Homo sapiens: one gene and its partners. The protein of the gene in region 4 purifies or fractionates together with the protein of the main gene of each other region. This does not show direct contact. Each region holds a gene or a part of one and is shown on either strand. Other genes may lie near its edges.

Region 1 (3,500 bases), on a different chromosome or scaffold from region 4:
TTTCCTCTGGCCTAAGGTAGTGGTTCTCAACTGGGGATGAAGTCATGTTTGGTTATCACAATTGGAGGAACGCTATCGGCATTTAGTGGGTAGAGGCCCGGGATGCTGTTAAAACATTCTATAATGGAAGGGACAGTTCCCCACAACAAAGAATTATCCAGCCCAAAACATCAATAGTACTGAGGCTGAGAAACCCAGGTATCCCTGTTTTGGACAATTATACATAAGGGGAAGCATGATGGAGAGCTTCCTTCTCAATATAAGACAGGGCTTCTCTAAGAGAAAGCCTTTTTATCCTTTCTCTTTCCTCCCTCTTTATAAGACCGATGTAATAATGAGAAGCTGGAGATGCTGCAGCCATCTTGTGACTATAAGGTGACAGACATGATGAAGAAAGGCTGCACATTAAGGAAGGGAGGACGGAATTATATAAAATCATAGGTTTGACGACAAGGACCTATCAAATTTGAGACCTTTGACAACTGGTTTAGTAAACACTAAAAGCCCTTATGTTTAAGGCACTGGGATGTGTTTTTTGTTACGTGCAATGAAAGCATTCCAAACTGATATACAAGTCTACGACCCCTTATCTGAGATTCTGAAATCTAAATGCCTTAAAAAACAAGTTTTGTTTTCTGTTTTTTTTTTTTTGGTAATCTTGGAGCAAACTTATTTGGTGGCAATACTACCTGAATTGTAACCCTATCCTACTAGTGTAAACAGTCTATCATTTTGCCACAGAAATATAAGTTTGCTTTTGGGGTAGTGCCCCAATAACTAGGTGTTATACATTACAAAGTACAGGTACCCTTCTGTAATCTGTAATCTTAATTTCTAAGACACATCTGGCTCCAAGAGTTTTAGATAAGAGGCTGTGGGCCTGACAAAGCAGTTAGGAGCTAGATACTTTTTTCATTTACATACCTCTTTATTGTTGAGTTCTAGAACAGCCAGTCCAACCAATGCTCCCACGCATTTGGAATTGAGTTCCAGGGCTCTGCTGAATGCCAGACGAGCTTTTTCCAGTTTGTTAAGTTTCACAAAGCAATGACCCATTCCTAAACGAACTTCCGCTATAAAATGAAGTCATTCAATCTATCAAACTAGGGCATTTTTTAGAGTTCAATTACAAAAATGCTTAAACATTCTCTATTTATGAGTTGCAAAATCCCCAAAATTAACCTCAGTATAACTACACTACAGAATCTTTTGACCTATCACAAACTTGGTTTCCTTGGAGGCTACATCATACCATATTCCAACCCTCTCCTCTATCACTGACACATTTCTCACTATAGAACAGAACACCTATAATACTGGTATTCTTCTTGTCTTCTAACATCGCTGCTAACCATACCTTCAATTTCTCATTATTGAAGAACAATTTTTAAACAGAGAACAAAAGTTCCACTAAGACCTTAAATAATATGACTGATTATGGGCACATACCATTGTTCCTTTCAAAGCTATGCTCATATGTGCTACCTCATTTAAGGCCATGCCAAAACACAAACAAGTTCCCATCTAAAGCCAATCACCATACTGGTCACTAGATGCCCTCTTATCTATTTAAGAATACTGCTCCAGCAACCCTCCCCTATTTTTTCTCTCTACTGGATCATTCATTCTCATCTACACATAAACGTTCTGCCATCTTATACAAATCCTCTCTTGATTCTATATCCCTTTCCAGTTGTCGATCATGTCTGTTCTTCAATAGCAAAACTCCCAGAATGATCTAGCTACGCTTGCTATGTCTAATTCCCTTCCTTCCATTTTCTCTTGAATACACTCCAGTGAAGCTCTCACCCCACCATTCCAGTAAAACTGCTTTTATCAAGGTCACTATGGATTTGTATGGTGCTAAATCCAATGATCAATTCTGTGTCCCTATTTTACTTGACCTAACAACAGAATTTGACACTGTTGGTCATCATCTTCTTCTGGAAACATTTTACATTTGCCTTTAAAGACAATGCACTTACCCTATTTTCCTCCTATACCTCTGGCTATTATCTTCTCAGTCTCCTTTGCTGATTCTTCCTCATTTCCCTAATCTCTTAATATCAGAGTGCTCTAGGGCTCCACCTCTAGACCTCTTTTCTATTTGCACTCATTCACAGCTTTATACACTATCTATATGTTGATGACTTCAGCCCAGACCTCTTTCCTGAATTCCAGCCTTTCTGCTGTCTTCACTTTGTCAATTTTAAATAACGGGATTTGGAAAATATGATTAAGTATAGAGTGTATTGGAGTGCAAGGTGTAAGAATGGCCACCAGAAAAGTACTGACTCCAAATGAATGATATCAGCATTTTCCAAAGTGAAAAAGTTAAGGTTTTAATTATTTGGGGGAAATAGAGAAGTTCTAGTAGGATTGTAACATTCTAAAATATAACACCAGGTGCCTATGTCACAGCAATTTGATTGGTTACAAATTGCTATATTCTAAAAAGATTATTTTATTGCTCCATGTGAGGGGGATCTTATTTCTGGCACCATTTGATCTTAATTGTTTACAGAAAAAAAAAGGCAGAAATTGCAACTGCATGCCACGTGACTCAGGTTGTATAGCCACATTCTTCTCAAGGCTCAGGATAAAGCTCTAAAAGCTTTAAGGCTGAACTGCTTAATTTGACAACTTATATGTCTAAAAGGTATTTCAAACTTTTCAGGTCTAAAACTAGTTCCACTTAAACTATTTCCCAAATATAGTAAAATATAACTCTACTTTTCCAATTGCTTGTGCAAGGGAGTTATCTTTGACTCTTCCTCTCTGTCTTATACATCATAGGTACTCCATCAGCTCTCCTTTCAAAATACATGTAGAATCTGACCACTTGTACCAACTCCACTATTACCTCCCTAGTGTGAGCCACAATCACCTCTGACCTGCCTGTCTGCAGATGCCTTCTCCCTGCTCTCCCTACTTCTGTCCTTGACCCCCTCCCCTTGAGCCCCACTCTAGTCTCAACCCCAAAGCTCAAACGAACCTTTTAAATATAGGTCAGATCACGTCACTCTGCTGCCCAAGGCCCTCCAATGGCTTCCCATCTCTGTCGATGTAAAAACTAAAGTCCTTACAATAATCTGTGATGCCCTACGTGATTAGTCAGTCCCTGGTTATAGCTTTGACCCCATTTCTTACTACTTTCCCCCCAACTCTTTCTCTCTCTATTCCAGAAACAATGGCCTCCTTACTCTTCCTTAAACTTACCAGGCACTCTCTTTCCTCTGGACCTTTGTACCTTCTATGCTCTCTCTCTAGGAGTGGTCTTCTCCTATATATCTGCATGGCTGCTAGTTGTTTTTTAGGTCTTCACACAAATGTCACTATCTCTGATGAGTTTCCTTGGTCATCCTTTCTAAGCAATTCCTGATGCTTCTCATACCCTTTTTCTGCTTTATTCTTCTCCTTGGCTCTTACTGGTAGCTTACACATCATACATACTTTACTATTTATCTTGCCCACTGAAAACTGGACTCCATGAGGGCAGG
Region 2 (3,500 bases), on a different chromosome or scaffold from region 4:
TATATCCCTCAGCCCTGTTGTTTTGCCAGACTCAACCCTGAGATAGTACGTCCTGCCTTCCCGTCGTCCCCCATGGAGATGGGGGGAAGCAGGGCCACCTCTGGAGCTCCAGCTCTCCCTTGGCAGCCTCCCTTGGGGCACAGCCTCTGCACCTCTCTCCTTTCTCCACCCTGCTCATGCTCCACTACTGATTTCCTTCTTGTAGTCTACCCAGTCCCAGAGAATAAATGTATGGTCCCGGGGTGGGCATGGAGATGCCTCCCACCTCACCACAGGGCCTCCTGCTTCCTCCCTAGGTGCCCCAGCTGTTCAGTGGTGTTTGGGGGTGTGAACTCCATCAAGTCCCACATCCAGACGTCGCACTGCGAGGTTTTCCACAAGTGCCCCATCTGCCCCATGGCCTTCAAGTCTGGGCCAAGTGCCCATGCCCACCTCTACTCCCAGCATCCCAGCTTCCAAACTCAGCAGGCCAAGTGAGGCCCGGGGGAGGGCCGGGCTGGGCCAGGGAGGGCTGGTGGGGCGCAGGAGGGGAGGGGCTGCACCCAACCCTGCCTGATGTCTGCACTGTCCTCACTTCAGGCTGATCTACAAGTGCGCCATGTGCGACACAGTCTTCACTCACAAACCCCTCCTCTCCTCACACTTCGACCAGCACTTGCTGCCCCAGCGTGTCAGTGTCTTTAAGTGCCCGTCTTGTCCTCTGCTCTTTGCCCAAAAAAGGACCATGCTGGAACATCTCAAGGTACAGGAGCAGAGGGATGGGGAATGGGTGCTTAGCTGTACTGACCTGGGGCTGGGGCCACATACTTCAGAAGTGGGGGGCTTTGGCATAGCCAGGCCCTCCCCCACAACAGCAACCTCCCTTGTCTCCTCTCACAGAACACCCATCAGTCTGGGCGCTTGGAGGAGACTGCTGGGAAAGGGGCCGGGGGTGCCCTGCTGACCCCCAAGACTGAGCCTGAGGAGCTGGCTGTTTCTCAGGGAGGGGCAGCCCCTGCTACTGAGGAGTCGTCTTCATCTTCAGAAGAGGAGGAAGTACCCAGCTCCCCTGAGCCCCCCCGTCCAGCCAAACGGCCTCGGCGGGAACTAGGGAGCAAAGGCCTCAAGGGTGGGGGTGGGGGGCCTGGAGGCTGGACCTGTGGCCTGTGTCACTCCTGGTTCCCTGAGCGTGATGAATACGTGGCCCACATGAAGAAGGAGCATGGCAAGGTGAGTGGGCCCCAAGGGGAGTACCATGGGCTGGGGGCAGCATTGGGACTGCCAGTGTGACAGTGGGGACGGGGTCCTGGAGCCTGGCTCTGACATCTACCCCTGCTCTCCTAGTCAGTGAAAAAGTTCCCCTGTCGCCTGTGTGAGCGCTCCTTCTGCTCCGCCCCCAGCCTGAGGCGCCATGTCAGAGTTAATCACGAGGGCATCAAGCGAGTTTACCCCTGCAGGTAAGTCTTGCTCCCCGCTTCCTCTTCCTGCCCAGCACGTGACTCTCCCTGTATGCCAAAGTACCTGTGCACCTGCGACGTGTCTAAGTGGCCTGATGGTTGGGGTCTCCCTCTGCTCTGGCAGCCCCCTCCTCAGAAGCAAGGGCCCTGGCCTTCGGGCTGTGCCGCTGCTGCCATCCTGTCCTCTCCCATTTCAGGTATTGCACAGAGGGAAAACGCACCTTCAGCAGCCGCCTGATCCTAGAGAAACATGTCCAGGTCCGGCACGGCTTGCAGCTTGGGGCCCAGTCCCCTGGCCGGGGGACCACCTTGGCTCGGGGTTCCAGTGCCAGAGCCCAGGTAGGCAGAGGCCCGGCCTGCTGTGCTAGGGCTTTGAGTGGGAAACTGGAAGGCAGAGACCATGGCCTCAGGAAGCGAGCATGGGGGTGCCAGGGACAGTAGGGGTGGTGGTAAGGCCCAGTTTCTTCCACTTTTCTTCAGGGGCCAGGTCGGAAACGCCGCCAGTCTTCTGACTCTTGCAGTGAGGAGCCTGACAGCACGACACCGCCAGCCAAGTCCCCCAGGGGCGGACCTGGATCTGGAGGCCATGGCCCTCTGCGCTACCGGAGCAGCAGCTCCACAGAACAGAGCCTCATGATGGGGTTGAGGGTGGAGGATGGTGCCCAGCAGTGCCTCGACTGTGGCTTGTGCTTTGCCTCCCCTGGCTCCCTGAGCCGACACCGTTTCATCAGCCACAAGAAGAGACGGGGTGTGGGTAAAGCCAGTGCCCTGGGGCTGGGGGATGGGGAGGAAGAGGCCCCTCCATCAAGGTCTGACCCCGATGGTGGAGACTCACCCCTGCCTGCTTCTGGAGGCCCACTGACCTGTAAGGTCTGTGGCAAGAGCTGCGACAGCCCTCTAAACCTCAAGACCCACTTCCGCACGCATGGCATGGCGTTCATCAGGGCTCGGCAGGGGGCTGTTGGGGACAACTAGTCTCCAAGGCCTGGGACTGACCAGCCCCTTCCTCTTGGAGCCTGGTTTTCCCTACTGCTGCCTGATCCCTCGGCTGGGGAGTTTTCATTAACATTAATATTTTGTTAATTCCTGTCTCTCCAACCTGAAGAAGAAGAGCATTTGAGGATTATTCTAGTTATTTGCAACCTCCCTTTGGGTTTGGCCCTGGAGTCCTAGTAGAGTGGACCCTCCATTCCTCCTTTCTGAGCCCAACACTAATTAATTTTATGCTCCTGCTGCAGAACCCCCAGTGTGGGCCTGGGGGTGGGAGGATGGGACTTAGGTATGCCTGCTAGACAGGTTCAGGGAAGGACTGATGGGGGTGTCATGGATGGACACACCTCTCCACAATTCCTTCAGGCATGGACTGGAACTTTCCTCCTCTAGGCCGGGCCCTGCCCTAGTGCCCACCCCCGCCCCCGCCCCCGCCCAACCCCAACTCACTGGCACTCAAGCCCCCTACCCCTGCAGTGCCTTTCACTTCTTTTTTTCCCCAGAAATCCGGGGCGGGGGGGTGGGGGGTTGGTAGGGATGAGTCCTGTCAAGGGGGCCACAGGAGAGGAGGGGACAGGCTCTCAGGAATCCTTTATTCTTGTAGTAATAATAATACTAACAAACAGTTGGGGAACTAGGGAGAAAACCAGACCATTAAAACTGTTTGTGGTCGAATCTCCATTCAGGCCTCTCTTTTTCTGTGACTTGGACAATGTGGAGTTGAAGCGGGTGAGAGAACATGGAAGGCCCGCCCTTCTCAGGGAAGAGGTGGTAGTGACCAAGACAGGCAGGGAAAAAGCAAACTTCTATGTAGTGCCTTTTGTATCTTGGACACTGAGGCATCCGTTCATACCTCATCACCCATCTCCCCCTGCACTCCCCCAGAAAACCTGGAAATGACACAAGTGGCTAACTAAGGACTTTATTTCAAACAAAAATTAAAAATAAAAAATTGAGAGCTCTTTTCCCTGGGTTTGGGGAAGGAGTCAGGGTAGGGAATTCCACATGGCTAGGCCAGTACCCTCAGTACACTGGAGGGCTGTGGGAATTCCCTTCCTTGCCCATGATGGGGAA
Region 3 (3,500 bases), on a different chromosome or scaffold from region 4:
CCTGTCAGGTTCAAGCAGTTCTCATGCCTCAGCCTCTCAAGCAGCTGGGATTACAGGCGCCTGCCACCACACCCGGCTAATTTTGTATTTTTAGTAGAGATGGAGTTTCACTGTGTTGCACTCCATACTGGGTGACAGAGCGAGATTCTGTATCAAAAAACAAAAACAAACAAAAATGAATTAGTTCTTTCCTTTAATAAACCGAATACCTTCTGTTTGTTGTACACTTTAGGATATTATTTATCTTCCTCCCCCAATCCTACAACTGTTTCATTTGACTCCCTGATGAACGTGTTATTGTGATATACTGGCATCTGAAAGAATTATGAGGGAATTAAACTATGTAACCTTTATTAATGAATGATTCTTTCACAGGCAGTCTGGGCTCTTGGCAACATTGCTGGAGATAGTACCATGTGCAGGGACTATGTCTTAGACTGCAATATCCTTCCCCCTCTTTTGCAGTAAGTTTCTTCTTCCTTCTTCCTTTTTTTTTCTTTTTGAGAATAAAAATGTAAGAGATTCCTCAGAAAGCATTACATGTTTGGAAATCATTTTGGATTTTCTAGTGTTATTTTTAATTCCAGATATTTTCTTGTTTAGATCATTTCCTCAAGCACCCTATCTTTTTCCATGCCAAAATTCTGAATTCTGAATTACTTGCATCAGAATTAATGAAGTTTTAATGTTCTGGAGAAAAGCTATCTGAAGACATCTCTTTATCAAAAGTATTATTATTTAGTATTTATGTCATCAGATAATCACTGTCTGTTACATAGTTTACCATTGTACCATCGTGCTTTTAGGTTATTTTCAAAGCAAAACCGCCTGACCATGACCCGGAATGCAGTATGGGCTTTGTCTAATCTCTGTAGAGGGAAAAGTCCACCTCCAGAATTTGCAAAGGTAAGGACTATGCTTTTGGGACATTGGCAGAAAAAATACAATTAAAAGAGTATTGCAACCAATGGTAAGGTGAACAGGAAGATAATTTTTGTTAAAATTTAAAATGTTAGAATTTTATCTGTTTTTGGAGAAACAGGGTTGTTGTTGTTTTTGTTGGTTCTCTTTATTATTTAAAAAGCAAATTTAGAGCATAGCTTGAAGGTGCACATTTACGATGGGACTGCAAATAAAGCATAGCATGAAGGAAGAATTTGTAAAGCTTATTGAAATTAGGCTTCATACAATTAGTATACTGTTTAGGAGACTATCCTTTCAGTTCTCTTAAAACAGTGGTTCTCAAAGTGTGGTCTGTGAGTTCTCTGGGAGTCCATGAGATTCTTTTTTTTTTTCCAATAGGTTTTTGGGGAACAGGTGGTGTTTAGGTACATGAGTTACTTGTTTAGTGGTGATTTCTGAGATTTTGGTGCACCCAACACCCAAGCAGTGTACGCTGTACCCAGTGTGTAGTCCTTTATCTCTCACCCACCTCCGACCCTTTCTCCCTGAGTCCCCAAAGTACATTGTATCATTCTTACGCTTTTGCGTCCTCATAGCTTAGCTCCCACTTATGAATGAGAACATCTGATGTTTGGTTTTCCAGTCCTGAGTGACTTTATCTACTTGTTGATTGATGGGCATTTGGGCTGGTTCCATGTGTTTGCAATTGTGAATTGTGCTGCTATAAACCTGCGTATACAAGTATCTTTTTCTTATAATGACCTCTTTTCCTCTGGGTAGATACCCAGGAATGGGACTGGTGCATCAAATGGTAGATATACTTTTAGTTCTTTAAGGAATCTCCACACTGTTTTCCATAGTGGTTATACTGGTTTACATTCCCAGCAACAGTGTAAAAGTGTTCCCTTTTCACCACATTCATGCCAACATCTATTTTTTGTTTTTTGGTTTTTTGAGACGGAGTTTTGCTCTTGTTGCCCAGGCTGAAGTGCAGTGGCGCGGTCTCGGCACACTGCAACCTCTGCCTCCTAGGTTCAAGTGATTCTCCTGCCTCAGCCTCCCGAGTAGCTGGGATTACAGGCGCATACCACCACACCCGGCTAATTTTTGTATTTTTAGTAGAGACGGGGTTTCACCATGTTGGCCAGGTTGGTCTTGAACTCCAGACCTCAGGTGATCCACCCACCTCAGCCTCCCAAAGTGCTGGGATTACAGGCGTGAGCCACCACGCCCAGCTGCATTTTTTAATATGTTTGTTGGCTATTTGTATATCTTCTTTTGAGAATTGTCTGTTCATGTCCTTAGCCCACTTTTTGATGGGATTTTTTTTTCTTGCTGATTTGAATTTCTTGCAGATTCTGGATATTAAAATAAATGGGTATTTTTGTAGTTGTTTTTAATTTGGAATCATTTTTCACTGAACAAAACCTTAGCATTTTTGGTCTTTAACAAAGTATCTAAAATACAGAATTTCCTAGTTTTCACATTTGTGAAAGTTCCTTTACCTGTTTAGTCCACAAAGAATGTGTTTTGATAGGGAGTCTTACTCCAAGAATTGATGTATATAAAACTTTGCTCTCTGAAATTATTTTCCTTGGGCTTTGACTACAGATTAGTGCAAGATCACTGACAACATTGCCAAAGATGGAAATGCCACTTAGGTACTTGCTGCTTCATCTTTAGAAGTGTAAATCACCCTAGAAGTCACCAAGTACATGCCTGGTTGCCTTCTTGAGTATCTCACCTCACTTCTGGCTTTTAGTCTATTGAATTTCATAATCATCATTTTCCTTTTACAGGTTTCTCCATGTCTGAATGTGCTTTCCTGGTTGCTGTTTGTCAGTGACACTGATGTACTGGCTGATGCCTGCTGGGCCCTCTCATATCTATCAGATGGACCCAATGATAAAATTCAAGCGGTCATCGATGCGGGAGTATGTAGGAGACTTGTGGAACTGCTGATGTAAGATATCTTTTAGAAAGTGTGTCCACTTTCTCTCCCTTGGTACTAGTTTTCTAGCTGCTAATACTTAAATATTAATGGATTGTACATGATAATTGATTTATTGTGCTTTGGGCTACTGTTTTTGTTACTTGTTTATTTTGATGTCAGATCTGTTTGTCTTGTTTTATTGAGGCTTATAGAGAACCTCTTAGTCCTCTGCTGTTAGCAGGCCTTTAGCAGAAACATTGGGAAAACTCTGATATGTGTAGTTCCAGGCTCATACTGGATGGCCTGAGATCAACCACCGGACATCAGAAGGCATACTGCCACTAAAATAGTCATTCCTTATCTGTCTGTCTCATTTAGAGCTTATTTTAGACAAGTATCAGAAATTCAATCTTATTTTGCTTTATCATCTCCGTGATGCTTTTGATAATGGAGTGGAAGATTTACTCGTGACATAAATAATTTGAGACTGTATTAATCAAATTTTTAGATACTACAGAAGAAAAAAATGAAAGTGATAACATAATGGAGAAATGGTACAGTTACAAGGTATGGGAGATTTAAAGTACAAAGTAGATGCAAAGAGACATTGTCGCAAACATGACATTTGGAATATATTAGATAGTTATAATGTATTAATACAAAA
Region 4 (3,463 bases):
CCTAAATGCTGCTGAGCCCTAAGATGCAGCTCACAAACCCCTCTTCTGGGAGGCTGTCCCTGACACGGCCCTTCAAGCCACTGGAGCCCGACTCCCCACCAGGCTGGGATAGGCCAGCGTCTGTCTCCTCCACTGGACCGGACGCAATGGTAAAGGCATGTGCTGTCTTGGTGAGTTGTGGGGTGGGGCCTGAATCTGCTTTTGTAGCAACTCCCGGCTGAGGCAGCAGCTGGGGGTGCTTGGGCCCCACTTTGAGGTGCGGGGGCTGGAGCTTGGCACCCAGCCAGGGCTCTGTTGGATACGGGTGTGTGGATTAATGGATGAACATCTGCATCTCTGGTCTGGGAACTGAAATGAGGAGACAGCAGGCCCAGGTTACTCCAAAGTAAAGGGCAGGTGCAAGGTGGGGACTTCTGCAGGCGTGGGGCACGGGCTGAGGGGCCACGGTGCCTCCAGGTCCCCCGTTTCGCTCGTGGTCTCCCTGGAGTGTGGCAGCCAGATTTTAATAAAGCCTTTTTGGTTTATTGCACATCATATAAAACTGACTGCACTGTATTTGAAACAGACGAGGACATTCACAAGGATGGAGAAACCAAGGTTTCCTTCTTTCCTGGCCCTCATCTTCCTCCACACTGCTCCTGAGGCTGGAGGCAGCTTTAACCCAAAGAATGGAATCCGCTAGTGAACATGTTTGTTTTGTGGTGGCATCAGAGTTGTTCTGGGCCCTTGTGCACTGTCCAGTTTGGAGACTGCTGGTAACAATGACAAGTGTCCGGGTAGCACGGCTGGGTCAGGAGAACTGCATCTGGGCTGTGGCAGTGCAGGGAGCCTCAGGACACCTGGTCTCAGGCTGGCGGTGGCTGGGGTTGGCCTGAGTGCTGAGGAGGACGGGCCCGGGCTGCCGGGGCAGGCTGGACCTGACGTCCATCTCAGGACAGACATGTAGGGCAGCTGTGCCCAGGACTGGTGGGCTCAGAGGGTGGCAAATGTGGCAGAATAGGCCATGCCCTGGCCAGCTGGTGATGGCCCACTGCCCCCTGGGACAGCTGAGGGCCCTCTTGGGTTAAGGGAGACACACTGGGCCGGGCGCAGTGGCTGGCGCCTGTGATCCCAGCACTTTGGGAGGCCGCAGCAGGCGGATTGCCTGAGCTCTGGAGTTTGTGACCAGCCTGAGCAACATGGTGAAACCCCGTTTCTACTAAAATATAAAAAATCAGCTGGGCGTGGCAGCGTGTGCCTGTAGTCCCAGCTATCTGGGAGGCTGAGGCAGGAGAATTGCTTGAACCCGGGAGGCGGAGGTTGCAGTGAGCCGAGATTGTGCCACTGCACTCCAGCCTAGGTGACACAGCACGACTGTCTCAAAAAGAAAAAAAAAAAGAAAACCAAAAAGGGAGACACACTGTGAGCACGGACAGAGGAAGGGGCTGGAGTCTGTAAATCCAGTGGGTGACATGCTCCAAATGCCACCCTAGAAAGCAGAGCCCAGAGGAGGAAGCCCTGGATTGGGCTGTGGTCATCATCACAGCGCAGAGCTGATGTGGTCCCCAGGCCCAGAAATGCCTGTGGAGGCCTGACCCACGCTGGGTGTCCCAGGTCCTCCCTGCAAATGGCGGGGGTGGGGGCTGCTGATGGCAGGTTGGGGTGGGGTCGGGATGGCCCCATCAGTTCCGCTCCACCTTCTTCTTGCCCCGAGGCTGCCGCCTCCTGCCCTGGAGCTTCTCCCTGCGGGTGGCGGCAGTGGTGAAGGTGATACAGTGGGTGTCCAGGAAGTCCAACAGCCTGCGCGAGGACACACGGAGGCCGTTCTGCCTCAGCTCTGCCTGCAGCTCCCGCAGCTCAAAGGGCTGGTACAGCAGCACCTTCTGGTACAGGGCCGGCTTGGAGCGGATGTAGCACCTCAGCGCCTCGTCTGTGTCCGCCGCCTGCACGGCTGCCTGCGAGGCACTGACCTCCCCCTCGCCCTCCTCTTCACCTGCAGACTCAAATGCCGCTCCAAACTCACAGGAGGAAGAACTGAAAAGAGCCAGACCAGGACGTTGTGCAACCCCTTTCTCTCCAGCCCCTGAGACCATGAGCCTCTTTAAAGGAAGGAAGGTGTCTACGGGTCCCATGGAGCCTGGCCTGTGGCACGATCCCCAGCAAGGCAGGACGGGCCTGAGAGATCCCTGCAGGCTACGCCAGCGGGATCCTGCCCCAGCCAGAAATGTCTAGCATGTGGGGCAGGAACCAGGAGGCCTGCGCAGGGCTGGGGTCAGGGAACCAGCCCCCTAAACCCACCTGGTTTTCCCACAGGTCAAACCCAGAAGGTGACGGGGGTTTTTGAAGATTGGCCATTAGGTCTCACTCGTGCCAACCCTCACGCCCACGGGCCAGAGGATACATGAGGCCACTGACCCCATCGCATCCATCCGGTTACCTCTGTGAGCTCAAGGAGCTGTCACTGCCATCCACAGAGGTGGCCACGGATTCTTGAGAGGCTGGGATCTGGGCGTCATCATTGAGGCCTGGAGGTGCCTCCTTGGTGGGCGACCTGCTTGGGGGTGTGATGCTTTCATGATGCTTCCTTTGATGTCGGGGGCCCTTGGTCTTAGCAGGTCCCTTGGGCCTATGGGCCCCAGGTCCTGTGGTGGCCTCCTGCTGGGCATGGACCCCTGCCCTTGAAGGCTTGTAGGTCTGGGAGGCGAGGGTCTGGCAGTGAGGCGCCTGCAACAGCGGCTGTGAGGACTGGCTCTCGTCCTCGGAGTCTGAGTCCAGGGTCTGGTGAGTGTACTGGAATATCTCCTTCAGCTTCAGAACCATCTGGCGTTTAGGCAGAGGGCGGACTCCAAACCTGACGGAGGAACAGGTGGATCTCAGGACCCACCCACACAGCTGGTCCACACTCCACGTTCCCTATCTTAGCAAAGAGTGATACCCAATGCATTCAGCGAATGGCTTGTGTGACAAACCATAGATGCCTGACTTCTGTGAGCATCAGAGGTTAGTGTCTATTCTAGGCGCCAACTAAGCTTACTCTGAATATTCCAAAAGAAACATTGCCAGCCAGGCACAATGGCTCACGCCTACAATCCCAGCACTTTGGGAGGCTGAGGCAGGAGGACAGTTTGAGCTCAGGAGTTCAAGGCCAGCCTGGGCAACATAGCAAGACCCCGCCTCTACAAAAAATACAAAAATTAGCCAGGCGTGGTGGTGTCACCTGTAGTCCCAGCTACTAGGGAGGATGAGGTAGGATCGCTTAAGCCCGGGAGGCTGAGGCTACAGTGAGCCAAGATCACATCACTCTACTCCAGCCTGGGCAACAGAGTGAGATCCTGTCTCCAAAAATAAAAAATAAACAAAAGATATGCTGCTCCCAGTTCTGAGGGATGGTGGCAGCAGCAGCTTCCCCGGGTGCCCGAGTGGAAGAGCAGTGTCATGTGGATGTGAGAGTTAAATGTTCTTTTAAAAAAAATCAGGCCTCCGC

Evidence for each region.
Region 1: the proteins of SLX4 (region 4) and CTR9 purify together in Homo sapiens (affinity purification with mass spectrometry, with the first as the bait; 2 studies listed by BioGRID). This does not show direct contact.
Region 2: the proteins of SLX4 (region 4) and ZNF687 purify together in Homo sapiens (affinity purification with mass spectrometry, with the first as the bait; 2 studies listed by BioGRID). This does not show direct contact.
Region 3: the proteins of SLX4 (region 4) and KPNA1 purify together in Homo sapiens (co-immunoprecipitation; 3 studies listed by BioGRID and IntAct, with this or other methods). This does not show direct contact.

Annotation. Positions count from the first base shown.
Region 1 is NC_000011.10:10,757,746-10,761,245, reverse strand, and holds part of CTR9 (RNA polymerase-associated protein CTR9 homolog), read right to left. Parts: intron 1,074-3,500; coding exon 925-1,073; intron 1-924. UniProt on the Homo sapiens protein: Component of the PAF1 complex (PAF1C) which has multiple functions during transcription by RNA polymerase II and is implicated in regulation of development and maintenance of embryonic stem cell pluripotency.
Region 2 is NC_000001.11:151,288,799-151,292,298, forward strand, and holds the end of ZNF687 (zinc finger protein 687), read left to right. Parts: intron 1-296; coding exon 297-473; intron 474-579; coding exon 580-742; intron 743-879; coding exon 880-1,209; intron 1,210-1,323; coding exon 1,324-1,436; intron 1,437-1,633; coding exon 1,634-1,775; intron 1,776-1,916; coding exon 1,917-2,411; 3' UTR 2,412-3,378; downstream 3,379-3,500. UniProt on the Homo sapiens protein: May be involved in transcriptional regulation.
Region 3 is NC_000003.12:122,448,940-122,452,439, reverse strand, and holds part of KPNA1 (importin subunit alpha-5), read left to right. Parts: intron 1-375; coding exon 376-464; intron 465-806; coding exon 807-906; intron 907-2,702; coding exon 2,703-2,866; intron 2,867-3,500. UniProt on the Homo sapiens protein: Functions in nuclear protein import as an adapter protein for nuclear receptor KPNB1. Binds specifically and directly to substrates containing either a simple or bipartite NLS motif.
Region 4 is NC_000016.10:3,580,681-3,584,143, forward strand, and holds the end of SLX4 (structure-specific endonuclease subunit SLX4), read right to left. Parts: intron 2,831-3,463; coding exon 2,417-2,830; intron 2,014-2,416; coding exon 1,662-2,013; 3' UTR 501-1,661; downstream 1-500. UniProt on the Homo sapiens protein: Regulatory subunit that interacts with and increases the activity of different structure-specific endonucleases.